Regions from separate parts of the Homo sapiens genome. Here all the other regions are linked to region 1. Evidence: fine-mapped expression QTL. A gene starts in region 1. Each other region holds a variant in brackets. All regions are shown on one strand. Distances are between the middles of the regions. Region 1 holds the start of TRIM65 (tripartite motif containing 65). Region 2 holds the start of UNC13D (unc-13 homolog D). Region 3 overlaps FBF1 (Fas binding factor 1).

Region 1 (8,925 bases):
TTGTTGTTCTCTGTCTCTTTGATTTCCTGGAAGACGACACCATGACAATTTCAAAGAAAATAGAACAAAATGAAGGAAAAAGAGGCTCTGTCTTAGCACATTCCTGTGACCAGCCTGCTGTCTGTGGTGTGCCCTCCTGGCCCGGCCTTGGCACATGTTCGTTTTTGTGGTTGTTGCCTGGACAGGCAACTCTGCAGGGCTGCTTCTCTACGCATCCCTTTGCCTGCCTGCCTGTGCCAGGGGTTGTCAAGGGCTTTTGGGTCAGAGTGGGCACCCCTTTCTCCAAGGCTCCCTGCAACAGCTGGCCTGTCCCTGGTGGGGCTGACAGCTTCCTTCTCACCCTGCCAGGCTGCCCAAGCGCCAGAGGTGACCTATGAGGCAGAAGAGGGCTCCTTGTGGACGTTGCTACTCACTAGCTTGGGTGGGTGTCTGGGGCTCACCAGGCCTCCTGCCCCGCTCACCTCCTATGAGCCAGGGCCCTGGGGGGCTGGGGGAGGGGCCAGGTGGAGATCTCCAGCGCTGGCTCCTAACAAGGGAGGGGGTGGCAGGGCCGTGGTCGGCTGGGCCGTGGTCAGCAGGTGTGTTTTTGTGCAGATGGGCACCTGCTGGAGCCAGATGCTGAGTACCTCCACTGGCTGCTGTGAGTACTGGAGTACTGGGGGTAGGGGGTGCTGCCCAGGCGGGAAGAGGAGCTGGGAGCCTGGACTGAGCTGCTCCTGAGTTTCATGGACTACCCATGGGACCTTGAATTCACCTGCCACCTCTGCCTCCTGAGGGTGTTAGGGGCCCTGGGATCCACGTGTCTACTTGAAGACAGCTACAGGAGACAAAGTTTGCAGTAGGCCTCGGTCAGTCCCCACAAGCCTCCTCATCTTTTCTTTTCTTTTTTTTTTTTTTTTTTGAGACAGGGTCTCACTCTGTCCCCCAGGCTGGAGTACAGTGGTGCAATCATGGCTAATTGCAGCCGCTAACTCCTGGGCTCAGGTGCTCTTCCCACCTCAGTCTCCTGAGTAGCTGGGACTACAGGTGCAAACCACTACACCCAGCTAATTTTTGTATTTTTTTATAGAGACAGGGTTTCACCATGTTGCCCAGGCTGGTCTCCTGAGCTCAAGCGATCTGCCCGCCTCCGCCTCCCAAAGTGCTAGGATTATAAGCGTGAGCCACCATGCCTGGGCCCTTCGTCTCTAAACTCATTTCTTCACCTGTAAAACTGGGATAATGGCACCACATGCCTTACTCAGCGTGAGGTGGACTGTGACAGTCACGTGGGAGAAGGAGCGGGAGAGGCCTAGCAGCTGTGGCGTCCCCCAGGTGCTCCTTGAACCACTGGGCGCTCCTTCCCTGGGCCCAGACTGGGCGGCCTTCCATCTTGGTAGCTTTTGGCTCTGAACACCAGGCCAGGGGGCAGAGGTCAGGCCAGTGACCCCAACTTTGAGCCTTCTGGTTAACTGGGGACAGTGACTGGGAGGCTGGTTTCCGTCATTTTTATTCAACTGTTACCAGCCTATGCGGCAGGACCCTCTGGGGATTTGTGCCTGAGGCGTTGGCCGCCCCTGTGCCAGGCTGGGCACACACTCCCTGACGAGGTCCTGGAGACTTCAGGACGCAGAGGGAAAAGCAGCCAAAAGTGGCCTGGCTTTCTAGCCTCAGTGACTGTGGCGGACCCACCGGCTCCCGGGGCCTGGAAGCGGCTGCATGGCCTTGCTGTCAAGCTGATGCTCTCTGGAGCCCTGTCCCCCACTCGGAGCTCCTCCAGCCCGCTTCCCGTATTTGCAGCATGTCCCGGCGTTCACAGAGCTTGGCTGCCTCCTCTGTCCCAGGAGAGAGATGCTTAGAGCTGTCCTCCCAGGGAGTCATGTCAGCCTCTAGGGTGTGCATGGAGCTGAGGGGACACTCCTGCTGCCTCCCTGGAGTGGTAATTAACCGGGACTTTCCTCCTCCCAGAACCAACATCCCGGGTAACCGGGTGGCTGAAGGACAGGTGACGTGTCCCTACCTCCCCCCCTTCCCTGCCCGAGGCTCCGGCATCCACCGTCTTGCCTTCCTGCTCTTCAAGCAGGACCAGCCGATTGACTTCTCTGAGGACGCACGCCCCTCACCCTGGTAATCTACACCACCCACACATAACCCGGCCTCAGGCCAGCTCCCCTGGAACGGTCACTCTTGCTCAGTTCTCTCTTGACCTCAGCCTTGAGACTGGCAGAAGAGCAGGATAGGGTGCTAGCAGACTCCCAGGGGCCTCTCAGGGTTACCTGTTGGGGTGGCGGGGTGAGGGGCTCTGGTGCCCCACTCCACACTCTCATACGCTCTCTATCTTCTCATAGCTATCAGCTGGCCCAGCGGACCTTCCGCACTTTTGATTTCTACAAGAAACACCAAGAAACCATGACTCCAGCCGGCTTGTCCTTCTTCCAGTGCCGCTGGGATGACTCCGTCACCTACATCTTCCACCAGCTTCTGGGTAAGGGCCATGGGGCTGGGGCACTGGGTGGGCCTGAGCTCCCAGGCCTCGCCTGCCCTGCCAGGGAGAAGCTTTGTTAGGGGAAGGCTGCGGCAGGTCCCTGGTGGGCAGGCCTCAGCCTGAGGGGGCGCAGGCCAGCAGACCACCCCGTACCCCTCACTCTTCTTGCAGACATGCGGGAGCCGGTGTTTGAGTTCGTGCGGCCGCCCCCTTACCACCCCAAGCAGAAGCGCTTCCCCCACCGGCAGCCCCTGCGCTACCTGGACCGGTACAGGGACAGTCATGAGCCCACCTATGGCATCTACTAAGGAGCCAGAGTGTGCGCATTTCAGAGCATGGGATTGATCGGCAGCAAGAGTAAAGACACAGCTCCAGAGGCCCACACTGTGGGGTCTGGGCCCTGCCTTAGGCAGCCCCCCTCTTTGGCCCCCTCCCGTCAGGCCCAGGGCTTGGAGTGAAAGTGACTCTCAGGTGGTGGGGTGGGGAATGTGAATAAACATGATTTCTTGCCGGGCTTGGTGGCTCACACCTGTAATTCCAACACTGGGAGGCTGAGAAGGGAGGGTCGCTTGAGCCCAGGAGTTCAAGACCAGCTGGCAATATAATGAGACCCTGCCTGTATTTTTTAAAAAAAGGGATTTCTGCCATAGCTGGCCTGGGTCGGTGCTCCAGGGCCAGAGGACCCCGATGGAGCTTCATGGGTGGGAAACGGGCTGCCTCCCACCCCACTAAGTGCGTCCTCACCTCCGTCTTCTGAGGGTGTCAGGGGCCCTGGGATCCGAAGCAAAAGCAGGCAGTGGGCCAAAAACAGGTGTGGCCCAGGGAAGGGAGACATCCCAATCCAGCAGGTTCCTGAAACCCAGCTCCCCGAAAAAGTGGAGCAGAGCAGCTGGGCTCAGGAAGGAGCATTTATTGAGCACTGGCTCTGTGCCTCAGGGGGGTCCCACCGGCCCCTGGAGAGAGAGTGCCTGCCCGAGCACTGACCCTCTGCACAGGCTCCAGCCCCCACCCCATGCTTGGGAGGAGAAGCCACATTAGGTAGGCAACAGCGTGTCTCAAGAGACCTGCTCAGGGTCAGAAAACCCATGGAGTCTTGCGGCTGGATGGTTAGGTGTTTTGTTTCTCCCTTACCAAAAGCAGAAGTCTGGCTAACTAGTAGGTGGAGGGTAGATCCGTGCACTTTGTCCAGAAAGAAACTTCGTCTATGGCCGCACAGAGGACGCAGTGCTTGCTGCAGCAGTGAGAGCTCGTGCCGCCTCAACATCAGCCCAGCTTGGTTAGAAAGGCCGTACTCTCCTGGGGTTCCCCCTGGCCTGATACACACTGTCAGGTAGGTGGGCGCTAGGCCCCAGACCCGCCTTGCCTGCTCAGCTTCAGGGGAAATGCTGGAGTGCCTGTAAATACTGAGGCTGCAGATCAGCTTGGACCCCAGGCAAGGAACTCTCCCCAGCGGAGGGCAGCAGGAAGAGGGGATGCTGATTGCAGATGAAAGCTGGTTTGTGTATTCATTCAGGGCCATTTGAAAAATACCAGTTAACTGGTCCCTGTCTCTTGGTGACCAGACATTTCCATCTCGCTGTTTACTTTAAAAGAACCAAAATTACGTGTAGCCCAGAGAAGGGAGACACCCCAGTCTGGCAAGTGTCCGAAACCCAGCTCCAGGAAAAAGTGCAGCAGTGCTCGGGTCTGCAGGGAGCCCGCCAGCCCGTTTCATCGCCAAGCCCCGGGGGATTGTTGGGGGTGGGGGTCTATGCTGTTAGGCGACTGGCAGATGAGTCCAGAAGAGGTTCCGCGCGGCCCGTGGTCAGAAGCCCGGAGTCCTGGCGGGGTTTTCGAGCCTCTGGTCTCCAGGACCTGGGCTGAAGGCCCAGGGGGGTGGGATGGACCCGCCAGGCTGGGACCCTAGAGAGCCGAACTCAGCTCTCAGCCGGGGTGGCGTGGACCCTAACGGAGGGAGGGGCGCAAGGCGGGAACGCGGAACCTTCGAGCGGGCCAGGCCGAGGTGGGCAGGGGTGGCCTAGGCCCCTGCGGCGGTCGCTCGTCGAGGGTGTCAGAGAAGGGCCTGCCGCCCCCCTCCGCCTTCCCGGGCGCGGATCTCGCCCCGCCCCGCCCGGATCTCGCCCCGCCCCGCGTTAGCCACGCCCAGGCGCCCTCAGCGCGCGAGGCCCGCGGTCCCTTTAAGACGCCCGGGGCCCGCCTGGCTCTCGCCGCCGCCGGGCCATGGCCGCGCAGCTGCTGGAGGAGAAGCTGACCTGCGCCATCTGCCTGGGGCTCTACCAGGACCCAGTGACGCTGCCCTGCGGCCACAACTTCTGCGGGGCCTGCATCCGGGACTGGTGGGACCGCTGCGGAAAGGCGTGCCCCGAGTGCCGGGAGCCCTTTCCCGACGGCGCCGAGCTGCGCCGCAACGTGGCCCTCAGCGGCGTGCTGGAGGTGGTGCGCGCCGGGCCCGCCCGGGATCCCGGCCCCGATCCCGGCCCCGGCCCCGACCCTGCCGCGCGCTGCCCCCGCCACGGGCGGCCGCTGGAGCTCTTCTGCCGGACCGAGGGCCGCTGTGTGTGCAGCGTGTGCACCGTGCGCGAGTGTCGCCTCCACGAGCGGGCGCTGCTGGATGCCGAGCGCCTCAAGCGCGAGGTGACGCATCCGCCGGGAGCGGGAGGGGTCCGGACCCGCCGCAGCCTGGCCACCGCCGGGTGACTCCTGCGGGCCGCGCCCTGCTCTCTCGGGCACCCGGCGGGGGCGGGGAGCCTCATCTGTAAGGGGCTTCTCCCAACCTGGGAGCTGATTATAAAAGTCGTGGGTCTGCCAGGCGCAGTGGCTCACGACTGTAATCCCAGCACTTTGGGAGGCCGAGGCGGGCGGATCACGAGGTCAGGAGATCGAGACCATCCTGGCTAACACGGTGAAACCCGGTCTCTACTAAAAATACAAAAAGTTAGCCGGGCGTGGTGGCGGGCGCCTGTAGTCCCATCTACTCGGGAGGCTGAGGCAGGAGAATGGCGTGAACCCGGGAAGTGGAGCTTGCAGTAAGCCGAGATCGTGCCACTGCACTCCAGTCTGGGCGACAGAGCGAGACTCCGTCTCAGAAAATAAACAAACAAAAAATCGTGGGTCTGTGCATCAGACTGGGATATGCAGCCCGGCCAGTGACACAGGGTGGGTCTCAGAAGCTGCTCGGTGCCCTCTGGATGAACAAAGCCTGGGCGTGAGGCAGCAGCTCCCTGCTCCGTGCCCAAGCGCTAGAGAACCGTCGTGTGTCTCCTGCGCTCCGAGAGCCTCCTTTCATTCGCTGTGCGGGGTTGTGGAGGGCGAGGGGGCTATGGGGGCTGTTGGTAAATGGATCAGACGAGCTCCCTGCCCTTAAGAGACTTAGAATCCACTTAAGAAGTCAGTGTTCCAGTAAGGCGTGAATGTATTATTACAAAATGCAGTGAGGAAAGCACATGGCATGTGATAGAGGGGTTGGGGTGACCCTGCTAAACGGGCCAGGAGGAGGAAGGGGAGGCCGCCTTCAGGCTGGCATGTGAGGATTGAGGAAGCGCAAGCCAGGAGAAAGACCTGGGGAAGAGCATTCTAGGCAGAGGAATCAGCCTGGTCCCGTCTCTGGGATGGGAAAGAACTGGGCACGCGGGGTCCCTAGTGGCAGATTTGTGCCACTGAGATCTGTGGGCCAGGCCCTGGGGGTCAGCAGGGGCAGGATCGGGCAGGGTCCTGGGGGAGTCTGGCTCTTACTGTAGGGTCATGGGGGCCATTATAGGCTTGGAAGCAGGTTGGCACATGATCAGATTTGGGCTTCATGGAGACTGATCACCTGGCTGGGGGCTGAAGGGGGCAGGATGTAAGACCCGAATCGGGTAGGAGTGCAGGGAGGCAAAGAACCAGCTGGGGATCAGGGAAGGGAGACCAAGATGGAGGAGGAGATGAGAAACGCTGAGGGGAAGTGGTACCTTGTGGAGGCGAAAGCAGGCCAGAGGGGACACGGGGGACAGCAGAGAGGGCGGCAAGGGAGACACCTGGGTTTCTGTCTTGAGCACGCAGGTGGCTGGGGTGCTATGTCCTGAGAGGCGTAGGTGGAGGGCAGAGTTTGGCCTTGGACATATAGAGGTCACAGTGGCCAGTGGGACAAACCAGGGGACGGGCCTGTGGCACCTGGGACCCTGGCCCCAGCCCTGCCGCGCGCTGACCCCGCCCCGGGCAGCTGCTGGAGCTCTTCTGCCAGACCAAGGGCTGTTGTGTTTGCAGCTTGTGCACCATGAGTGAGGGTCACCTCCTCAAGTGGGTGCTGCCGCCAGGAGCAGGAGGGGGCCGGACCCCCCGCAGCCTGGCCACCACCGGGTGCAGTGGCTCACGCCTGTAATCCCAGCACTTTGGGAGGCGGAGGCCGGTGGATCACGAGGTCAGGAGATTGAGACCATCCTGGCTAACATGGTGAAACCCTGTCTCTACTAAAAATACAAAAAATTAGCCAGGCCTGGTGGCGGGCGCCTGTAGTCCCAGCTCCTCTGGTGGCTGAGGCTGGAGAATGGCGTGAACCCGGGAGGCGGAGCTTGCTGTGAGCTCCAAAGCTCAGGAGCGGGGAGCTGGAAGTCGAGAGCTGGGAATCATTAGCGCTAGGAGGAAGAGAAGGTTCCAAGCTGGAGCTCCCAGGGAGATGGGGAAGGTCGGGGGAATGGCAGCCCTGTGTGGCACCTGGAGACAGGGGTGCCAGGAAGAGAACGGGCAGGATGCCCATGCTGATCAGAGGCTCAGTACGAGGACAGAAATGACCTTCAGCATCGGTACTGTGGAGGTGGTCCGTGCCCTTGACAAAACCCATTTCAGCAGCGAAGACAGGATGTGGAATCATTCGGGGACAGAGGAGGCCTGGGGCTAAGGCGTGGATGGAGGATGGCGCAGGGACGCTGGATGGGACAGGAAGGGAAGGGGTGGCCAGGAGGCCTGATGGGCAGGGAGGGATGGGAGAGTGCACGGCTGGGGGTCGGTGAGGTGGGAGGACTGAGACAGAGGTGGCTGGAACAGGAGAGGGCACGAAGGCAGTGGTCAGAGAAGGAAGAATCGATGCCTAGAATGGAGATTTTAGAGCTGGTGACAGGGCCAGGGTGAGTTCACAGGAGCGGCTGAGATGAGGTGAAGGAAAAGGGCTCCAGAGTGTTGCGGGACATTCCTTGTAGCTGCTGAAGCCGCCGAGGAGGATGAGACGAGATGTACTGCTCATGGGCGGGTGCAGAAGACTGAGCTAGGCACGGAAGTTTGAGTTGGAGGCCGGTAGATGAGGGCCATGTGGAGGAAGGGAGCGACAGGGGCAGCCAGTAGCACCAGGGGAGCCAGGATTTTGCAAGAGAGAGGGAAAGGGACATGGGGGTGCCTGTCCCTGGGGGAGGGTTGGGTGCCCTGGGAGAGCCTGCCCTCCGGCCTCCTGTGTTCCTGTGTGAAATGCTGGAGGCTGGGGGCCCGGAGGAGCTCTGGGCTTAGGAAGATCTGAGGACTTTGACCAAATTATCAACTTCTCTGAGCCCGTTTCCTCCTCTGTGATGTGGGGATAGTAATGGTCCCCATCTCAGTGCATTGCGGGAGGAGCAGAAACAAGGTGGTGAAGCTTTTGACCAGGTGCTGGGAATGGAGCCCCTGGGACCTGCGTGGTTTGTCCTGCTCTCATGAGAGCACGGTGTTTTGATTCCCAAGGGACTCAGGGAGCGCAACCGAATAGGGGTCCCTTCCTCCCCTCTCAGTCTCAAAACTAGGGCCAGGGACTGGCCGGATCCCCAGAAGAATCTAGTTTATCCAGCAAGTAACTGCCCACTTGTCAGACAGCTTTGGTGCTTTGGGAGGTCCCTGCAGTCAGCTTCTCAAGCCCCAGGGCCTCCTGGGCCACTGACCCCTCTGCAGTGAGACAGGGACCAACGGCTTTAGTGTTTGGGGTCCTCCCTGCGAGGCCTCCTGAGCCAGCATTATCGCTTTCCTGTATTGATGGGTGGGGGGTTAGGCCCAGAGAGGACAGGTGCTTGGCCTCAGCTTGCTCAGCATGCAAGAGGTAGAAATGGGAATGGAAGTTGGGTCCTGAGCCCAAGGCTTCCGCTCTGCTCAGGCACCACCCTGCTGCAGATTAGGAAGGACTTTGTCTGGACCCCCCCGGGGCACGGCCCCAACTCTCCCTGGGTTAGACCGAGGCCGGTGCTCTGGAGGCTGGCCTGGGGTGGCGTGGGGAGGGGCTGCCTGGTGTCTGCAGGCATGGTTGGTTGTCTGAGAAAGGACATCACAGCCAATCCTGGCCTTCTCTTGTTGCTTGTCCCGTGGGCCCGCACCACAGGCCCAGCTGAGAGCCAGCCTGGAGGTTACCCAGCAGCAGGCCACCCAGGCCGAAGGCCAGCTACTAGAGCTGCGCAAGCAAAGCAGCCAGATCCAGGTACGAGGCCTGTGCCTGCCCGCCCACCATGGCCTCACACTGCATCCTGGGGCGGCCA
Region 2 (10,080 bases), 53 kb after region 1:
GACTCAGGAAGGAGCTGCATCAGGTTCTTGAGAGGGGCCTTTTCATGAGAGCCAGGAAGAGGCAGCTGCCTCTGGGAAGCCAGAGTCACCCTGCTTTGGGGCTGGCTTTTTGGCAGGCCCCAGAGACCTCTGCATTGAACTTGCCTTCCCCTTGACACCCAGCCAGGCCCGCCCTTGCTATTGAGACACTCTTGGTCCCCCTTTGGGCAGAAGCCAGGCTAGAGGGGCCGGAGTCTGTCCTTGGGCCCCCTTAGGACGAGAGGTCTGCTCTGAATTTTAAGGTCGGCTGTTGCTGAGTGGGCTTGTTCCTGTGAAGCTGCCGAGTGCTTGACTGGGGGCGGAGAGAAACCTTGATGTGGCCTTGGCACCCGTGTACATATTGGGCCAAGGGTGGGAGGACAGGCTTGTTCCAGGAAGGAGAGGCCATTGTTCCAAAGGGGGAAGCGAGTACAGCAGGGCCAGGCCAGGCTGCAGTGCTGGCTCCTATGCAGGCAGCAGGCTGGAAACCATGGCACCAGGAAGTCCCCATCACAGTGCAGGCCCAGCCCCCGCAGGCCTCCCGGGCGTTGGATGAAGTCCTGGAGAGGAAAACAGCCATCTCTTTGGGCATAAGTTTTCTTTTCCTGTGCTGTTTATTCACTGTCCTTCCCCTTTCAGGTGGCTGGGAAGGCTCTGCTTCCTACAAGTTGACTTTCACGGCAGGGGGCGCCATTGAGTTCGGACAGCGGATGCTCCAGGTGGCATCTCAAGGTATCCAGGCTCCGAAGATTAGGGGCTAAAGACACACTAAACATGTAGGGGTTTGGTATGAGTTTGCTTCCTTTTCGTTTTGCTTTTTCAAGAACTCAAGAGGTAAGTGTTTGGGCACCAGGCTGACCAGGCCTAGGAGTTGGGAAGGAAAGCTGTCATTGGCATCAGCTCTGTCCTGTACCTCAGAGACTGCGTTTCCCTGCCTGGGGCAGGTGGATGACGTTTTGACAAAGCTGTTTGGACTCAAGGACACTTTACTATGGCCTCATAAAACAAACACTAAACCAACCATTCGACTGCGGTTCCGCAGCCATTGAAAATGACCGAGGGATGGGCCAGCAGACATCCTCCGCCAGCTCACTCCTACCCCAGCCCTGAGCCTCCCTCCCGGCCTCTGTCCACCCTCCAGCCTTGCCCTTGACCTCCCTTGCCTTCCCCTGGCTCTGACCTCTCCCGTCCTCTCTCATCCCTGACCAAGGTGGCCCCCCGAGTATGGGTGGAGGGTGGAGTGGGATGGACAGAGGATGTCTGCGGGGCACATTCCTGAGACCCAGTAGCTCCCATCTGCAGGCAGCGGGGCTGCCCTCTCCCCGCCCCAAGGCAGGCCACGCTCATTTCTCTTTCCCCTTGTACTCGTAGCCTCCAGAGGTGAAGTCCCCAGTGGAGCCTATGGCTACTCTTACATGCCCAGCGGGGCCTATGTCTATCCCCCGCCAGTCGCCAATGGAATGTACCCCTGCCCTCCTGGCTACCCCTATCCACCGCCCCCACCTGGTGAGTGTGTCCTTTGCTGCCCCCACTCCCCTCATGAGCCCACCTACCCAGGCTCCCCCCAGGCCAGGGAGACTTTATTCCTTGAGCTGCTTCAGGACCAACGAAGGAGCTGGAGAGGCCCCCCTCACCCGGGAGGGGGCCGCAGCCGGGTGCTCACCATGTCCTTGTTACTCTCTCACCGAGCAGAGTTCTATCCAGGACCCCCCATGATGGACGGGGCCATGGGATACGTGCAGCCCCCACCACCGCCCTACCCTGGGCCCATGGAACCTCCGGTCAGCGGCCCCGATGTCCCCTCCACTCCTGCAGGTGAGGGCCCTTGGGTGCTGGCAGCCCTTCGGGACCAGCCCTCTCCTCCCCGATGTCGCACAGAGAGCCTCAGAATGGCCAGAGACTGCTGAGAGCCGCAGATGATGGATGACCCCTGGACTACCCCAGGGGCCCAGCAGGGCTGTGGCCTGGTGGAGCGGAGCTAGATTCTGGCCCCACCCCCATCCCTTAGCTATCCATGTGCCCTGGGCGGGGAAGGTCACCCTGTGTGCCTCTCGATCCTCTCATCTACACTCAGCTGGTCGGTCACAGTGGCACCTGGGGCATTGGCTCAAGGATTAGATGAGGTGAGACATGCGATGGGCCTGGAAAGGACCGTGCCAGCGCGTGGCATGTGCTCAGGAAACCTCACCTGCTGCTCTCATTGGTGGAACTGGACCCCCAGCACCAGCTGCCCCGAGCCATGGGGGCCCGGGGTCTCTTAGCTGAGCTCAGGGGGAGGAGAACTTGTCACCGACACCAGGTGTGTTTGCTCTCACAGCCGAAGCCAAGGCCGCAGAAGCAGCCGCCAGCGCCTATTACAACCCAGGCAATCCTCACAACGTCTACATGCCCACGGTGAGAGGGCTTGGCAGTGCCGGTGCAGCCCCACAGCCGCAGATGCTGGGAGCCGCAGGGGGATGACCGCACCATGTTTTAAACCTTCTAATGCAAGTCTCTCCTTTCTCCCTTCTTTAGAGCCAGCCGCCGCCACCTCCCTACTACCCACCGGAAGATAAGAAGACCCAGTAGGCCCTCCTGCCTCCCTGCCTCCCACCCTCATCTCTCTACCCTACCCCTCCCATCGGGGCTGTGCTGGGGCTTGGGGAGGGGAGGGGGCGCCTTGTTCTCCCTCCAGGTCTGATCATAAACAATTACCAGGAACTAGCATTGTGGGACATTAGGGCCCCCGGCCTCGGGAGAGGTGCCGCCCAGCTTCCCATGCCAGCCCGGAGCCCACAGTGCTGCCCAGCGTACCTCCCTCACCGTCTGGGGCTCTTCTGGGAGCACGGAGCATCCCCTGTTCCTGTTTCACTCTCAGCTTCTCCCCTCGAAGGGACTCTCTGGCCACCTCCTCCACCGCAGTCCAGCTCCCTCAGTCTGGCACCCACTGCTACACTCAGCCTCATGAGCCACTTCAGACCAGCCAGGTGTCTTCCCGGGCCCTGCCAGACCCTGCTCACATTCCCTCTGCTGGTCTGTGCTGGTCTCAGAAGGCCACCGCGCCCGCATTCCACTCAGCCAGGGTCCAGCTGCAGCCCCCGCCACCCTTCCTTCCCTTCCCTGTCCTGGGTCATGTTGTTGCCACCCTGTGTGACTTTTGAAGCTGTAAAATGAGCTTCCAGGGCTTGGGTGGCGTCGGGGCAGGGCCGCCGAGGCTGGGAGGAAGCCCTTCTGCCTTTTGCTGGTGTTTCTGGAATTTGCTTTCCCTCACCTCTCACTTCCTTCTAGAAGGAGCTTCCTGACTGGAACCAGAGAATGCATGTCTGTCCACTTGGTGGCTGCTGGGTGGGGCCGGGAACAAGGGCCCCTGACCCTGTGTGCTGGCCGGGACCTGCCACCAGCCCCCCAGCCTGCTTCTTCCCCTTAAGCTTTGTGCCCCTGGATGCGCTAACATTCACTCTTGTTTGTCCCTGGACTGGCCATGAAGTGAGGAGATGGTTATTTAAAGAGAATTCCCTATTTATTTGACAAAAAATCCAGTTAATATATTAATGTGAAATAAACCCTGTTTGCACCTCGATTTGTTTGCTGAAAATGTGAAATAGTAAAAATGAAATAACTGGACCCTTTCTGGCTCTGCGTGTGGTGACCCGGGGGTCTCTTCCGGAAGGAGAGCCGTCTGGCCGCTGAGGGCCCTGGAGACTTCTGGGACGGTTCCCTCCCATGGGAGGATCCCCATTCTCACGGCCCAGCCAGCCTGTCTGGTCCCCAAGACAGCTCTGGCCTCTGGAGCTGGTTCTTAACGGTTGTCGCTCAGCAGCTGTGTCCCTCCCCCACTGAGTCCCCAGGGCCTGGCTGGGACAGAGGTGGATGTGGCCCAGAGTTGGCCTTGAAGGGAGGAGTTGGGGCTGCCACCTTGTCCCCTGCTGGCTCCTCGAGGAATGGCAGCCCTGGCCTAAGTCCTGGTTGCTGGAGGGAGGAGGCCGAGTCAGCCCTGGAGCACGTCAGGACCTGTGACAGGGACACTGAGGTAGCCAAGCCGGCTTGCCACCACCCACGTCACGTGCCCTGCTGTGAACTTGAAGGGACAGGAGGGTGGGAAATGGCCAAAGGCCGTGACCAGGCCCACACGCCCGCAAGTCCCCCAGCCCAGCACTGGGCACAGGGTGGGCAGGCCACAGAGCTCTAGGAAAGCCCCATGCTGAGGCGCATTTTCCTGTCCCCCGGGAGCCAAGTCTGTCCTCAGGAGAGATCGGGCAGCAGCCCCTCTGCCTCCTCCTCCTGGCCAGCCTGGCCCAGAGCTCTCTGGGACTTGGCTAAGCCCCCTTCAAGGGTGTCTGAAGGGAGCACTGTCCTGACTGCCAAGGTGGGGGCAGGGGCACAGGGCTGTCCCTGCCCAGCACAGCTTGGCCCCGTCATCTCCAAGGAATGTCACCTGTGGGGCCAGGCAGGCTGAGCAACTGGCTGTCCTCCAGGGAGACGCCTCTTGGGAGCCCCCACCCTGGGCGCCACCACACCCCACCCCACCCCGCCCCGCCCCACGTCTGGACGCACTCGAGGAAGTGGGGTGAGAACCCCCCCGGGCCCAGGTCAGCTTCTCTCAGGGTTCAGCCCAGCCTGGGCACAGCACATGGATGGGGCAGGATGCTGCCCGCCTGTTCTGGGCCCCCCCGCCCCCTGCTGAGAGCGTTGTCCCCTTCCCAGGGCCTCTGTAGGAGGGTGGGGCGGGGCCAGGCCTGCCCACGGGGTCCACCTTCTGCTCCAGCCAGAGGAGGGTCCTGTAGGGATCCCAGCTGGGGAAGGTGCAGGGGGCCTGGGAGACTGCCTCTCCGAAGCGGTGAAACCCTCACCCTTCCGTCCCTCCCAGCCACCCTCCCTAAAACTTCCCCTGACAGAGGGTGGCAGCCCCAGGCTCTTTGCATAATCCTGTGGCTTCGCTGTCTTCACCCAGCACCAGCGGACAGGGAAGGGCAGAGAAGGCCACCATGGCGACACTCCTCTCCCATCCGCAGCAGCGCCCTCCCTTCTTGCGCCAGGCCATCAAGATAAGGCGCCGCAGAGTCAGAGATCTACAGGATCCCCCGCCCCAAATGGCCCCGGAGGTAGGAGTGACCTCACTGGGGAGAGAGCT[G/A]GCCTTGGGGAGCACTGTGGTCTCGGGTACGGGTGCCCTGCTGTCTGGCCCCACCTCTCGAAGGCTGGGACTGGGGACCAGCGACCCTCCCCTGCCTACTCCACCCTGGGGAGAGCCCCCTGGGCCAGCAGAGCAGGGGCTGCCAGATGGACTCTGGGCCACTGTGGGCCTCAGGCCCTGTGGTCTGAGGCTCTCAGAACCCCTCCCTCCCGGTTGGCCTGACCCCATCCCCTACTCCTCCAGCTTCAGAAGAGCCGACTCCATTAGGTGGGGGTGTCCCTGCTGTGGGGTGAGCTGTTCGGGGAGCAGCAGACCCCCAGGCCGACGTGGCACCCCCCTCACCTCCGCTGCCGAGCCTCACTTCCGCTGCTGGGTGAGGAGCAGCCGCCACTGATAAGCAGAGCTGTTTCCTCTGGGGAAGGGAGGGAGGTGGGGTGCGGGTGCGGAGGGCTCGCGCTGCTGGGCACCCATGGACCTCAGCCACGGCGGGCCCAGGGACGGACCTCCAGGAGGCCTGCTGGGGGAACAGGTGCGGGGCATCACTGGGGCTGGAGGCCGGGGTGCTGGGGCCCCCATACCCTTGGCCTGGATCAGGCCTCAGAGGAGCCATTCCTGTCCATCTGAGCCTGCTCTGGGCCTCCCGGGACACTGCCTTTCCACCTTGCTCTGCAGATCCAGCCTCCATCCCACCACTTCTCCCCCGAGCAGGTAAGAGTCAGAGTGCTGGGGTGCAGAGAGGTGGGGAGGGCGGCTGTGTGTCCTCCTGCCGGCCGACGCTGATGGCAGCAAGCAACTTGCGGTGGGGAGGGGACTCCTGGGTCTCAACTCCCTCCGCTGCACAAGCCGCCCTTGTCCTGCCCATGGCGAGAGGTGTTGGTGCCAGGGGTGGCTGGTGGGGTCCCCAAGGTGACCCCGTGTGTCTTAGCGGGCCCTGCTCTACGAGGACGCACTCTACACTGTCTTGCACCGCCTGGGTCATCCTGAGCCCAACCATGTGACGGAGGCCTCTGAGCTGCTGCGATACCTGCAGGAGGTGAGCCCGGCTCCCACCCCACCCCCCTTCCTGCAGCTGCCCTGTCTGGTGCCCCCAGCCACCCACCCGCCTGCCTCCCCACCAGGCCTTCCACGTGGAGCCCGAGGAGCACCAGCAGACACTGCAGCGGGTCAGGGAGCTTGAGGTAACCTGGGGCCAGGGTCCCCCTGGGCAAGGAGGGGCCTGGGAAGCCCAGCCCCCTCAGGGACTCAGGCCATCCCTCCTGTCCCTCCAGAAGCCAATATTTTGTCTGAAGGCAACAGTGAAACAGGCCAAGGGCATTCTGGGCAAAGATGTCAGTGGTGAGCATGGGGTGGGGTCCCCAAGGGGCTTCTTCCTGGCTCCTTCCTCTCCCATCACAGCCTGGCCCAGGACTCTTGGCGGGAGCACCCACTTCCAAGAAGCCCTGTAGCGCTGGCCCCCCATGCTGCTGGTCCCCTTCCCTCTCCCCCGGAGGAGGCTCAGCCCCGGGCGGGGGTGATGAGGGCCTCTCCCAGGGACCCAGCCGACTCCCTGGCTGCCTCGTCTTCCCCACTCCTCCACAGGGTTCAGCGACCCCTACTGCCTGCTGGGCATTGAGCAGGGGGTAGGTGTGCCAGGGGGCAGCCCCGGGTCCCGGCATCGGCAGAAGGCTGTGGTGAGGCACACCATCCCCGAGGAGGAGACCCACCGCACGCAGGTCATCACCCAGACACTCAACCCCGTCTGGGACGAGACCTTCATCCTGTACGTGGCCGTGCTCCAGCCCCCACTCTATCCAGGTCTTTCCTGGGTAGCAGGGTCTGCCCCAGACAATGAGATGAGTAGGTCGTCCTGGCTCAGGGGAGGGGGTTTGGCCCTGGGCAAAGACTAGAGGAGAAGCCCATCTCCAGGCACGTTAGGTGGACAGTAGGTCAGATGGGACAGAACAAGATCAATGCCACACGTGCTGATGGGGCAAGGAGGGTCAGGCCCTTGTGGGTGAGTCTGGGGGTGCCTGAAGCTGTACCTGAAAGGAGGCAGGGATGGGTGCAGTGGTTCCCACCTGTAATCCCAGCACTTTGGGAGGCCAGGAGACTGAGACCAGCCTGGCCAACATGGCAAAACCCCATCTCTACTAAAAATACAAAAAAGGCCGGGCGTGGTGGCTCACGCCTATAATCCCAGCATTTTGGGAGGCTGAGGAGGGCAGATCATGAGGTCAGGAGATTGAGACCATCCTGGCTAACACGGTGAAACCCCGTCTCTACTAAAATACAAAAAATTAGCCGGGCGTGGTGGCAGGCGCCTGTAGTCCCAGCTACTCGGAAGGCTGAGGCAGGGGAATCGCTTGAACCTGGGAGGCGGAGGTTGCAGTGAGCCGAGATAGCACCACTGCACTCCAGCCTGGTGACAGAGCGACACTCTGTCTCAAAAAAAAAAAAAAAAATTAGTGGGGGCCAGGCGCAGGGACTCATGCCTGTAATCCCAGCACTTTTGGGAGGCCGAGGCAGGTGGATCACCTGAGGTCAGGAGTTTGAGACCAGCCTGGCCAACACAATGAAGGCCCACCTCTCCTAAAAGTACAAAAATTAGCCGGGCGTGGAGGTGCATGCCTGTAATCCCAGCTACTTAAGAGGCTGAGGCAGGAGAATCACTTGAACCCGGGAGGCGGAGGTTGCAGTGAGCCGAGATCACGCCACTGCACTCCAGCCTGGGTGACAGAGTGAGACTCTGTCTCAAAAAAAAAAAAAAAAAGGCTGGGCGCGGTGGCTCACGCTTGTAATCCCAGCACTTTGGGAGGCCTAGGCGGGCGGATCACGAGGTCAGAAGCTCAAGACCAGTGTGGCCAACACAGTGAAACCCCGTCTCTACTAAAAATACAAAAATTAGCCAGGTGTGGTGGCGGGCACCTGTAATCCCAGCTACTTGGAAGGCTGAGGCAGGAAAATTGCTTGAACCCAGGAGGCAGAGGTTGCAGTGAGTTAGATCCTGCCACTGCACTCCTCCAGCCTGGGGGACAGAACTAGACTCCATCTCAAAAAAAAAAAAAAAAAAAAAAAAAGGGATGCGGCTGGGAGGAGGGAAGTTTGGCAGGGATAGGCTACAACTCCATGGCTCTGGGCTGTGGTCACTTACTGCTTCGTCTGGGGGCATCCACCCTCCAGGGCCCTCAACCACGCCCTTTTCTCCATACAGGGAGTTTGAGGACATCACCAATGCGAGCTTTCATCTGGACATGTGGTGAGTGACCTGGCCTGCCCCTAGGGATGGGAAGGGAAGGGATCTGGGGTGAGAGAGGCGGAACCTCCTCCTGGAAGAGGTCGTAGGCACTCTCTCTGCTTCCTTCTCAAACCTCTGTCCTGCCAGGGACCTGGACACTGTGGAGTCTGTCCGACAGAAGCTTGGGGAGCTCACGGATCTGCATGGGCTTCGCAGGTTCGTGTTGCAGGGCTCACAGGGAAGGGGTTGGGGCTCCTTTTGCCCTCCATCCCCCAACATGCACACTGGATGCTGGGGTGCAGGCTCCTTTGGGGTCCAGGTGGCTGCGGCCGGGGGTGGATTCCAGCCTAATCCCTTCCGACCCTTGCTGCGTCCCCCTTATGGGACCCTGCCTGACGCAGGATCTTTAAAGAGGCCCGGAAGGACAAAGGCCAGGACGACTTTCTGGGGAACGTGGTTCTGAGGCTGCAGGTGAGGAGGATGAGGAAAGGGGCCCAGGAGCGAGGCAGAGGGAGGGGGTTGGGAGGGGTTCTGGGGAGAGGCTCTGTGTCCTCACAAAGCTGAGCCTGGGGTCCACCTCCTGTCGCCTCCGCTGCCCCGACTCTATGAGGTTCTGACGCTCACGGGCTGGGCATCCCCGCCTGTCAGGACCTGCGCTGCCGAGAGGACCAGTGGTACCCCCTGGAACCCCGCACTGAGACCTACCCAGACCGAGGCCAGTGCCACCTCCAGTTCCAACTCATCCATAAGCGGGTAGGTCGGGTACTGGGCCAGTGGCCATGCCCAGCTCTTGCGGCGGTCTGCTGGGTTGCGGGGCTGGCTGCACCCAGTGTGAGGCCCTGTCTGCTCACAGAGGCCTCATTGCAGAGAGCCACTTCGGCCAGCCGCTCGCAGCCGAGCTACACCGTGCACCTCCACCTCCTGCAGCAGCTTGTGTCCCACGAGGTCACCCAGCACGAGGTATTGCCCTCCTGGGGCTGGGCGCAGCCGGGGCTGCCCTTCAGGTCCTGACACTCCTCCACCTGCTCCCCTCAGGCGGGAAGCACCTCCTGGGACGGGTCGCTGAGTCCCCAGGCTGCCACCGTCCTCTTTCTGCACGCCACACAGAAGGACCTATCCGACTTCCACCAGTCCATGGCGTGAGTACACAGCCCTGGGCAGAACCCCTGAGCCACCAGCCCCCCACGCCCCCTGCCCTCCTCCAAGCCGGTAGCCCAAAGTGTAATTCTCAGCAGAGTTCCCTTTGGCCCAAAATGTGTGTTTTAAGTTTTGAATCAGTTGCCAATTTTAAAAAGTCTAGAGATTCGGCTGATGCGGTGGCTCACTCCTGTAATCCCAGGACTTTGGGAGGCTGAGGCAGGAGGATCACTTGAGCCCAGGATTTCAAGGCTGCAGTGAGCTATGATCACACCAACACTCCTGCCCGGATCACAGAGTGAGACCTCATTTCCAAAAAATATTAGAAAAAGCTATCTGGAGATTTGACATACCATCCAGATCTCCAGCTTCTCATGAAACACAAGTGCTGGAACTGCAGGGTCATCATTTTGCTGCTTTTTTTTTTTTTTTTTGAAACGGAGTTTCACCCTTGTTGCCCAGGCTGGAGTGGAATGGTGCAATCTTGACTCACTGCATGCAACCTCTGCCTTCCAGGTTCAAGTGATTCTCCTGCCTCAGCCTCCCGAGTAGCTGGGATTACAGGCATGCGCCACCACGCCCAGCTAACTTTGTATTTTTA
Region 3 (10,080 bases), 26 kb before region 1:
CGTGCACCACCACACCCAACTAATTTTTGTATTTTTTGTAGAGACAGGGTTTCATCATGTTGGCCAGGATGGTCTCGATTTCTTGACCTGGTGATCCACCTGCCTCGGCCCAAAGTGCTGGGATTCTAGGCATGAGCCACCGCGCCCGGCCAATATCCTGTCTAAAAAAAGAAAAAAAAGAAAGCTTTTTTCCCGAGACCAGCCACCTAGGATCCCTGGGCATAACCCACAAGTCCTCTGACTCAATTTTTGGTGCTGACTTTGAGTCTCTCATCCCAGAACCATGAGCTGGACTCCATTCCACCTCCCCCTGCTTACCTTTAGTTCCATTTTCTTTCTTCACTCACTGTTTTTCTCAACAGTTTTCTCATTTTCCTTTGTTTTCTCACAATTCTACACCTGGGGTGCCAACAGCCCATCTCTCTCAGGTGGAAGTCCTCAGCCCCTTATCAGACATAGTCCTCTGCCCTCCCTCCCTGGTTTTCTAGGACCTGGACGGCATGGATGCTGATATCTTAGGTCTGAAGAAATCTAATTCAGCCCCTAGCAAAAAAGCTGCAAAGGACCCTGGGAAAGGAGAGCTGCCCAACCACCCCAAGCCTGCAGGTGGGTCAGTAGCCAGTGAGAAAGGTGCATGGGAGACGGCTCCTCGCATCTGCTAGGGAGACTTTGAGGACGTGGAAGATGCTAGTAGGAAGCGTTCATGTCCTTGGGTTTTCTCTGCACAGGATGGAGAGGCCAAGGAGCATTTGTGCGTGTGTGTGTTTGAGTGTGTGTGGTGGGGTAAGGGGACAGCTTGAGTTTCCTCCCTTCCTCGAGCTGTTCCAGGCCCTCTGGGTCCAACATGGGCAGCTCCTGGAGAAGCTGTGTGAGTTAAAATGGAGAACTCTATGGCAGCCTGTGCCTCTCCTGAACCCATGTCTCTGGAGTGACTCATGATGAGGAAGCAGAGGTAGCTCCTACCTCGTTTCCCTGCCAGAAGCCCATGGCAGAACTGGAGACTCCTCCCTTGGCTGTGCCCATGGCCATGAGCCCCCAGCTTCCCAGGAAGAAGTGCACCCCATCCCAGGGGCCCCAGTCCATGATATGGGAGGAGGACTTTGGCCAGGAGAGACTCAGGCCCATGACCTTGTCTTCTGCTTCCTGCAGGGGGTGCCATTCCCACCAAGAAGTCACTTCCGTCTCCCAGCAGCTCTGGGCATCAGAACAGGAGGTTTTCCTCTGAAGGTACCATAGGCTCCTGTCATGCCTCTGGGACACTCTGGTTTGGGAGTGGAGCAGCCTAGGCATGCTTGCTGGCCCGAGGCCCAGCTGCTGCCTATGTCACATGGGTGCCACTGGTTTACTTCCTCGTGAATTCATGTCGGGACCAGCTATATTGTATTGGCTGAGATATTAGGGAACTTATTTGCAAAGACCTTAAAGCCAGGCATCAAACTGAAGATCTTCCCAAGTATAGGAAGGAGCCCCTTTCCCGTCATGAATGTGTGGATATTTTACTTCTCTTCTGATGCTTGAGGGACATTTCCAGAAGGCCATGCAGCCTGCAGAGTCAGAGGCCCCACCGGCAAGCCTGAGGCAGGCCCCGTAGGTCCAGGGCCGCCCTCCAACTCCCTCTCTCCTTGCCCGGCCTGTCTTTTTGTGGAGTCCCCGTTGCCCCAGGCCCCACCCTCCAGATGCCAGGGGGCTTGTTTATGTACTGGAGCAGCTAGAAGCCTTGACTCGAGCGCTGCTCCCCAGTTCAGGCTTGCTTTTCCTCAACTAAGTGCTGCAGTCTGACCTGTGCTTTCCCTTCTGCTGTGAGACTTGGAAGACCCATTGAGAGGACTTCTCTCCTATGATGAAGGAGGAATCACCAAGCAGCCGCCTGTGACACAGAGTAAAACAGCTTCTGACAAGAGCCCCAGCACAGTGAGAGATCAAGGTAGGGTGGAGTGGGCTCATTTCCCATCCTGGAGGAAGAGTTTATTGGCAACAAGCTAACCAGCCTTTCTGGTGCAGAACCAGAGGCCTCTCCCAGGTGGGGACCAGAGGTCTAAGGTCCAGTACAAAGAGATCATCAGCCTTTAGGAATAGGAAGGTAGGACGTGTGAGTCTGGGAGTAGGCTGGAGGAATTGGGTCCCGTGGACAGACCAGGCAGGTCTAAAGCCTGTCGTCCTACCCAAAGGTGCAGAGAAACCACCCCCAACCCCATTCAGATATCACAGTTGAGGGCAAGAAGGCTGCAGGCATTGGGCCTTGTTTTGTCTTTCAGGTCCCTCTATTCCTCTAACTCCTGGGGACACCCCCATCCGAAAAAAAGAAGAATTGTTGTTTGATGATGGGGATGACATCATGGCCACCTTGGGGTTTGGAGACAGCCCCAAAGCAGAGAAGAGGCAGATAGGAGACCAGTAAGGATCCCTGAGTAGGCCAGGCTGCTGCCTCAGGTTCAGGGAAAAGCTGGTGGACGGGTACTGTGGGATTCCCGAGAGCCCCTCATACCTACACGTTCCTGCCGTGTGTCCCGTCCTGCAGGGAAGGGCCTCGCCCTGCTCGCTCCACGCTGGATGAGCTGCTGGGTCGAGGCATGGCCACCAAACTCCTGGCCCGCCCGGGCACCGGGGAGCACAGGGAGTTCAAGCTAGACAAGAAGTACCAGAGGCCACAGGGTAAGGAGGCTTGCGGGGGCCGCAACAGGACGGGAGGGAGGCCTCTAGATCAGGCTTTCATCACAACCTATAATGAGAAATCAGCCTCACATCCTGATACACACATGTGATTATACACGTCTATAGCTGAGACAAAATAATACTTACCGTGAAATAATACTTACCGTGACCACTGTTCGTGCTCAGTTGTCTATGATTGAGATGCTGTTTGATTTGGAAACACACTGGCTGTGACACATTAAGCTGGTTTCTCAGCCCTCTCATGGGTAGCAGCTCGCATTTGAAAAGCACTGCTCTGGACATGTTTCTCAAAGCATCAGCCCACAAGCTGTCTGCTGAGAATCATTCTTGTGACACATGCCGCTCGCTGGACCTGACCTCGAGGGATCCTGGGGCAGGGTCTGGCTACTGCAAGGCCACTGCATCTTCCTGGCCAGTGCCTGAGGTGCTCCCTTCACAGCAGCTTCCCTCTGCTTGTCTTACACAACAAGCTACCAAATTCAGCTTTTGTTAGAATTTTGCAGCCGCAAATGAGCTTGGTTCCCCTACTCCAGATCACGGTCACAGGCTCCTTAATTCACAGACAGTGAAGATATGTGGGGTGACGAGGACTTCACCTTTGGAGCCTATCAGCCCACTGTGGTCTCCTCTGAGGGCCGGCAGTCCCGCCGGCAGTCTGTCAGGTAAGTGGGGCCTGCAGGAGGCTTGGCCTCTTGAGACAGGTCGGCCACTGGGAAGACAGGCCCCTGCAGCTGTCCCCTGTCCCACCCGAGAGTCTCATGTGGGAGGCCACAGGGTACAAGGCCCTCAGCTCTGCAGGTGCTGAAGGAAGCGGGAGATGGCCTGGTCCCGCCAGCCCAGACAGAGTGGAGGAGATGGCCCCAGTGGGAACCCCCATCCCAGACGCTGCTCAGGTTCGCCAGTGCCCCACCCAGCCTCAGAAGGAAAGGGGCAGGTGGGCCTGCCTCCACCTAAAGCCCCTGAAATCATAAAAGGCTGTGATGTCGCTCGGTCTCCCCAAGGAACATACTTCCTGATGGGTAGCAAGACCACTGGCATCTGCGGTGGCTTCTTAGACCCCGCTTCCCAGGAACTCTGCTGTCGAACCTGCCGTGACAATTCTGACAGCGTGATCCTCTCAGTTTACAAAAAAAAAAATTAAATCAGTGATAGGATTTTCTGAGTTTGGAGTTCTTTTGCCAGTATATATTTTAAACTTTGTATTTTGAAGTAATTTCAAACTTCAAAAGTCGGCTGGGTATGGTGGCTCATGCCTGTAATCTCAGCAGTTTGGGAGACCAAGGCAGGTGGATCACCTGAGGTCAGGAGTTCAAGACCAGCCTGGCCAACATGGTGAAACCCCGTCTCTGCTGAAAATACAAAAATTAGCTGGGCGTGGTGGTGGGCGCCTGTGATTCCAGCTACTCGGGAGGCTGAGGCAGGAGAATAGCTTGAATCCTAGAGGCGGAAGTTGTGGTGAGCTGAGATTGCACCACTCACTGCACTCCAGCCTGGGCAATAGAGCGAGACTCCGTCTCAAAAAAAAACTTCAGAAGTTGTAAGAACAGCACCAGGAGCCCCTCTCATCCTTTCCCAGGTTCAGCAGTTGTTCCCATTTGCCAGGTTGGCTTCTTCATCCTCTTTCTATCTGAATAGCTCTAAGCACATCGGCATTACTTCCCATACCCAGTACGTTCTTAACCCTGGGAACCTGCTGCCACTGGTCAGTGACAGATGAAGGCCACGGCCGAACAAATGAAGTAACTGTTGTTGGAAAACCTGGAAACCACTTGATCCAACTTATTATTATTTTTTTTAGACAGAGTCTCACTCTGTCGCCCAGGCTGGAGTGCAGTGGCATGATCTCGGCTTACCACAACCTCTGCCTCCCGGGTTCAAGCAATTCTCATGCCTCAGCCTCCCAAGTAGCTGGGATTACAGGCGCCCACCACCACACCTGACTAATTTTTTTGTGTTTTTAGTAGAGATGGGGTTTCACATGTTGGCCAGGCTGGTCTTGAACTCCTGGCCTTAAGCGATCTGCCCACCCTGGCCTCCCAAAGATCTGGGATTACAGACATGAGCCACCGTGCTCGGCCTGATTTTTCTTTAGACCTGTGTGCCCATGGCTGTCATTTGATCCTGTTCCTGTTCTCTGTGGGTAGAACTGTCCCTGGTTCATGTGATGGAAGTCAAGGTCTCTGTACTTCGTGGTGTTCTACAGACAGCACGTGGCCTGCCACCTGAGCCGGTCCAGGAGCCACTGCTCACTGGGCCTCAGCTGACTGTGCAGGGTCCCTGGGCATCGTGACGCCCAGCTGCAGGCTGCTAGGGGGCCACTGGGACTGGCTGTTTCCCCTGCCTGACACCCTCCTTTCTGTCTTGAAGTAGGTTCTTCGCAGACAGTGGCGCAGACCCCAAGGGAGAACCAGGCTCCAAACAGAGCCCTCCAATGGCTTCCAGCCCCATCCAGCCCAGGAAGGGAGGAGCTGACTGGTTGGGCCTCAAGGACGAGGACTTGGACCTGTTCCCTGCCTCACCCACCAGAGAGGCCCATCGGGAAAGTTCAGTGCCTGTCACGCCCTCAGT[G/A]CCTCCTCCTGCGAGCCAGCACTCCACGCCAGCTGGGCTGCCCCCCTCCAGGGCAAAGCCACCAACTGAAGGTGCAGGGTCCCCTGCCAAAGCCAGCCAGGCTTCCAAGCTGCGAGCCTCCAAGGAGGAGAAAGAGGACTGGCTGAGCCATGCCCTGTCTCGGAAGAAGTCCCAAGGCCTGGCCAGAGAGCAGCATGCTGGGACCTCTGAGGGCCTGCATTTGGCGGGGACAGCGGGCCATCCCCCTTCTGGCAGGTACTGACTTAGGCTGCTGTGGCTAGTAGGGGGAGGACTGGCTGGGGACTTGAGGAGCCCCTTTGCCCCTTCACCTGTTGCAGCCTCAGTCAGCAGTTGGGGAACAAGGCAGGGCGCCGTGGCCACAGAGGCCGCTTCTTGGCTTTGCTACTCTGCCTTTTAGGCACTGCAGAGAGAGCCTCTGGCTCCCAGGCTTGCCCCAGGGACATACCCAAGAAGGAGGGCTGTTGACATTCATGCCCTGACCGCCATGGGGACAGGTGCTAACTTGATCGAGGAGAAGACAGAGGGTCCCTGAGGTGGCAGACACACCGCTGCCCTGTCACAGCGCCCTCAGGCTGGAAGCCCCGGCATCCAAACAGCCGGTGCTTCTGCCGACTCCACTGAAGCGAGTATGGCGTGTGTGAGCTGAGATGTCCCTGTGCTCTTTGAGAGTGTTAGAGGAGACATAGTGGCCGAGAGGCGCCTCTTGGAGAAGCCCTTATCCGTGGGGCAGGATAGCGAGTGACCTCTGAAGGCAGGAAGGCACAAGGGGCCAGCAGGCTGGGGGAGTCCAGAGGAAGTGGTGAGATGTGCTGTGGCCAGAGCCCAGGGGAGTGAACTGGGCAATTTGTGACAGCCCAGGGACATCACCCTGTCCTGGGGTTGATGACAGGAGGGCAGTTTTGACTTTGACCTGAGGCCGAGGGGAAAGCTCAGGCCAAAACAGAAAAGAGCCTGTCTCTTCACTGACCCGTGAGCCGAGAAAGAGGTGGAAATAATGGGAAAGGGAGCCAGCCAGATTTGGTAGACTGAGCAGAATCCTAATCTAGAGCTGAGCCAAGTTAAGTGGACTGGAACAGGGCTCTGAACTTGAACTTGACTCCAGTGTCTATAACATTTCCGTTGTCACTGCTTGGACAGTGTCCATTCACTGCACCACTGTGGACATTGAGGCAGGAAGGGGGTACTGGAAGGGAAGAGATGCCCAGAAATCCCAGGAGCTCAGACGTGGGAGGAGAATGCCCCAAGACGGGATGGTGGAAGCAGGAGGAAGGGGGGCCACGAGCTTCACGTGTGAAGCCCGTCCTGGGCCCTGTCTTCATCCAGCCTGACCTGGGCCTTCTGTCACCTTCACCTTGAACGCTGCCTTTCCTCAGCCAACCTCTCACCAGCACACAAGGGCTTGAGCACGCAGCTGCTGGAGGGAGTTCTGGAACAACTGCACGAGAAAGACCGTGTGTCAGGCCTGGTGTCTCGGGGTAGGCCTGGGCTGCGGGCTGAGTGGGAATGAGAGCATGGTGGGCAGCACAGGCCTCTGTCCTGAGAGAGGGACACAGAGGCTGTTCACCCTGCCCCTGCCCCGTCCCCGTGTCCCACACAGAGGCTGCCCACCCTGCTCCGTCCCTGTGCCCTACACAGAGGCTGCCCACCCTGCCCCATCCCCGTGTCCCACCTAGAGGCTGCCCACCCTGCCCCGTCCCCGTGTCCCAGCAGAGGCTGCCCACCCTGCCCCATCCCCGTGTCCCACGTAGAGGCTGCCCACCCTGCCCCGTCCCCATGTCCCACCTAGAGGCTGCCCACCCTGCCCCGTCCCCGTGTCCCACACAGAGGCTGCTCACCATGCCCCATCCCTGTGTCCTCAGGTCCCCTGTGACTCAGAACCATGCCGCCTCAGCACTCCCTACAGGTTCCCCAAAGAGGGGAACAGCCCCTGGAGACCTCTCAGCCACTGGTTTGTTTTTTGTTTGCTGCTTCATTTGGGAGTTTAACCCTGGGTGAGGAAGAGGTGCTTTGAGCTTCCTTTGGGGTCCCTGGGACATGAGTTACACCAGCCCCTCCTGGACACTCGCAGGCCCAGTGCCCTGGGCCTCCTGTTCATTTCTCTGTTGTTGATGTTTCAGAGCCTGCCACGTGTTTCCCGAGCACCCAGAAACCCACAGAGCCTTCCGTGCCCGTCCAGGTAGGGGTGTGGGCAGACAGGTCTAGCTCAGGGCCTAGGGAGCAATTCTCCATGCCCAGGGGCAATACCCACAGTTTGACCTGACGACCTGCCAGGAAAAATGTGTCAAACATACCAAATGTGACGTCAGCCAGCTCCCCGGGCACCCCCCACTAGAACTTGCCTGAATTTCTAGCCTCGCTGCTCCTGGGCAGAGCTGGGTGTTAATTTGCCTACATCAGTGGGGAGTTTAAGGAGGCAGCCAGGCCGGGGAGCTGGGATGCTGCAGTCAGAAAGCAGGGCCGCAGGGTCCTGTTCTGTCAAGAAAGCCTCCTCCACCCTTGCCATCCTCCCACCACACCTCTGCCTCTGTTTCCCATGTGTGGCAGTCACCTGTGACACCTGGGCCTGGGAGGTGTGCCCCCCCCCCCCCCAGGAGTGTGTCCCTGGGAGATGGTGGGTAGGGGACAGCTCGTGGGAACCAGATTAGTGTCAACATGTGGGCTTCAGGCCTGACAGGAAAAGCCAGCATCAGCTTTTGTCATAGCGAAGACTCTGCTGGGGTTCAGCCATTTGTCTGGGAAGCCGGAGACCATGCTGGGGAGGAAGCTGTTCCGGAGGGTGGAGGGAGACATGCTCCTGACCAGATCTGCAAGGGGAGGTACACTGGGGACTGCTTAGCCGCAGTGACTGTTACTTTCCAAGGCCTTGGCCCCATCTGCAGCCACAGATCAGATGCAGGGAGGTCCAGTGAGCAGTGGGCCAGGAGGTAGCTGATCTCAGCTGGGCCCCTGTCCCCTCCCTAACTAGAAACACCTCTCTTCCTCTCCTCCAGCCCCTGCTCCCAGAGTCCCTGGCCCGGAGCCTGCTGCCGAGCACAGAATACCAGAAGCAGCTCCTGGCAGCACAGGTGCAACTTCAGTGCAGCCCCGCTGAGCTCCAGGCCGAGCTGCTGCATAGCCAGGCCCGGCTGGCAGAGCTGGAGGCCCAGGTGAGGGGCAGCGGGGCCGTTGGTGCTGGTGGCAGGGTTGCGACAGGAGGGGACACTGAGAGTGGCTGGAAGCTTCCCCAGGAGGGAGGAAGGGCTGTTGGCACAGGGCAGCGTGGAGTACAGCCACCTCCCCTCCCTGGTTGCTGGCCCTCCTGCTGTCTCCCAGGTGCGGAAGCTGGAGCTAGAACGGGCCCAGCATGAGCTGCTGCTGGGGAGTCTGCAGCAGCAGCACCAGGCAGACCTGGAGCTCATCGAGAGTGCACACAGGTACCCTGGCGCTGGCCCCAGCTCTGCCTTGGATCTCACACTGACCCCAAAGGCCACCCAGTGTGCCTGGAGAGGCCTTTAGGCGGCAGCCCTCTGCCTTCCTTGCGCCATGGCTGGGTGTTCTGTTGGCAGAAGCCGCATCAAGGTGCTAGAAACATCGTACCAGCAACGGGAGGAGCGGCTCCGGAGAGAGAACGAAGAGCTGTCAGCTCGGTATCTGTCGCAGTGCCAGGAGGCCGAACAGGCCCGTGCTGAGCTTACGGCCCAGCACCAGCGGCGCTTGGCGGCCATAGCGCAGGAGAAGGACCAGGAAATGGAGCGGCTCCGGGAGCTGCAGCGGTGAGGCCCAGGGACAGGCAGCTGGGGAGCAGGCTTGCAAGGAGTAGCCGGAAGAGAGCCATCCCCACGAGACCCTTCGCTGTGGCTCAGCAGCCTTTGGACAGGGGTTGGGTCCTTCCCTCCCAGTCCAGTGAGTGAGGACTGAGGGCTGAGCACACTGACCCATCACACCCATGGGTGGGGGTGCCACCTGCTCTTACAGAGGCAGGAGGGGGTACCCACAGGCTGTTCAGGCATGGCATGGCAGCAGCAAGCCGCCTAGGGTCTAACTAAGCACAGGGTCATCCACTCGCCTGCTCATGCAGTAGAGGCTAGAAACAAGATCCACCTGGGAAAGGCTTGCGCTGTTGTGCCTGCCATGTTTATAGGGTTGCCTTTCTAGAAGAGAAGGAAACTAAGAAAAGTTACCTAAGGGAGTCAGAGGTCGATGAAGGCAGAGGCAGCCTTTTAAGACTGCTCAGGGCCGGGTGCAGTGGCTCACACCTGTAATCCCAGCACTTTGGGAGGCCGAGGTGGGAGGATCACTTGAGGCCAGGAGTTTGAGACCAGTCTGGGCAACACAGTGAGACCTCATCTCTAAAAACAATTTTTAAATAAGCTGGCATGACAGCTACTCCTGTAGTTCCAGCTACTTGGGAAACTGAGGCAGGAGGATACCTTCAGCCCAAGAGATCAGGGCTGCAATGAGCTATGATGCCACTGCACTCCAGCCTGGACCACAGAACAAAACCCTGTCTCTAAAAACATTTAAAAAACAAAACACTTGGGAGGCCAAGGCAGGAGGATTGCTTGAGGCTAGGAGTTCAAGACCAGCCTGGGCAACATAGTGAGACCTCATCTCTAGGAAAAAAAAAAAAAAAAAGAAAGACTGCTTGGGGCCGGGCGTGGTGGCTCACACCTGTAATCCCAGTGCTTTGGGAGGCCAAGGTGGGTAGATTGCCTGAGCTCAGAAGTTCGAGACCAGCCTGGGCAACACGGTGGAAACCCCATCTCTACTAAAATATAAAAAATTAGGCGTGGTGAGCGCCTATAGTCCCAGCCACTCGGGAGGCTGAGGCAGGAGAAT

The links.
Region 2: its variant is fine-mapped to the expression of TRIM65 in ileum (GTEx, PIP above 0.99).
Region 3: its variant is fine-mapped to the expression of TRIM65 in spleen (GTEx, PIP 0.97). The same link has a PIP of 0.9 or more in sun-exposed skin and transverse colon.

What each region holds. Positions count from the first base shown.
Region 1 is chr17:75,892,697-75,901,621 of GRCh38, reverse strand. TRIM65 (tripartite motif containing 65) reads left to right here and starts at 4,671. Exons shown (of 6, transcript NM_173547.4): 1 at 4,671-5,098; 2 at 8,772-8,867. The coding sequence starts at 4,685. It overlaps MRPL38 (mitochondrial ribosomal protein L38), which reads left to right. Exons shown (of 9, transcript NM_032478.4): 5 at 349-421; 6 at 595-640; 7 at 1,948-2,106; 8 at 2,328-2,464; 9 at 2,636-2,978. The coding sequence ends at 2,772. RefSeq lists enhancers at 3,537-4,244, 4,245-4,954 and silencers at 4,322-4,801, 4,832-5,401.
Region 2 is chr17:75,839,240-75,849,319 of GRCh38, reverse strand. It overlaps UNC13D (unc-13 homolog D), which reads left to right and starts at 4,916. Exons shown (of 32, transcript NM_199242.3): 1 at 4,916-5,099; 2 at 5,801-5,836; 3 at 6,054-6,161; 4 at 6,247-6,306; 5 at 6,397-6,463; 6 at 6,707-6,887; 7 at 8,319-8,363; 8 at 8,490-8,558; 9 at 8,744-8,813; 10 at 8,991-9,095; 11 at 9,210-9,302; 12 at 9,378-9,481. The coding sequence starts at 4,983. WBP2 (WW domain binding protein 2) reads left to right here. Exons shown (of 8, transcript NM_012478.4): 4 at 658-750; 5 at 1,390-1,524; 6 at 1,711-1,833; 7 at 2,336-2,412; 8 at 2,533-3,621. The coding sequence ends at 2,586. RefSeq lists enhancers at 3,977-4,066, 4,197-4,276, 4,695-5,399 and silencers at 4,507-4,666, 4,677-4,736, 5,587-5,646. The variant G/A (reference allele first, on the strand shown) is at 5,129.
Region 3 is chr17:75,918,602-75,928,681 of GRCh38, reverse strand. It overlaps FBF1 (Fas binding factor 1), which reads left to right. Exons shown (of 30, transcript NM_001319193.2): 8 at 489-606; 9 at 1,150-1,227; 10 at 1,805-1,924; 11 at 2,256-2,394; 12 at 2,519-2,652; 13 at 3,236-3,335; 14 at 5,041-5,496; 15 at 6,636-6,737; 16 at 7,122-7,210; 17 at 7,380-7,438; 18 at 8,253-8,408; 19 at 8,575-8,675; 20 at 8,808-9,014. Among named protein-coding and RNA genes, the nearest start is that of FBF1, 17 kb to the left of the region's middle. RefSeq lists enhancers at 1,780-2,979, 6,376-7,575. The variant G/A (reference allele first, on the strand shown) is at 5,242.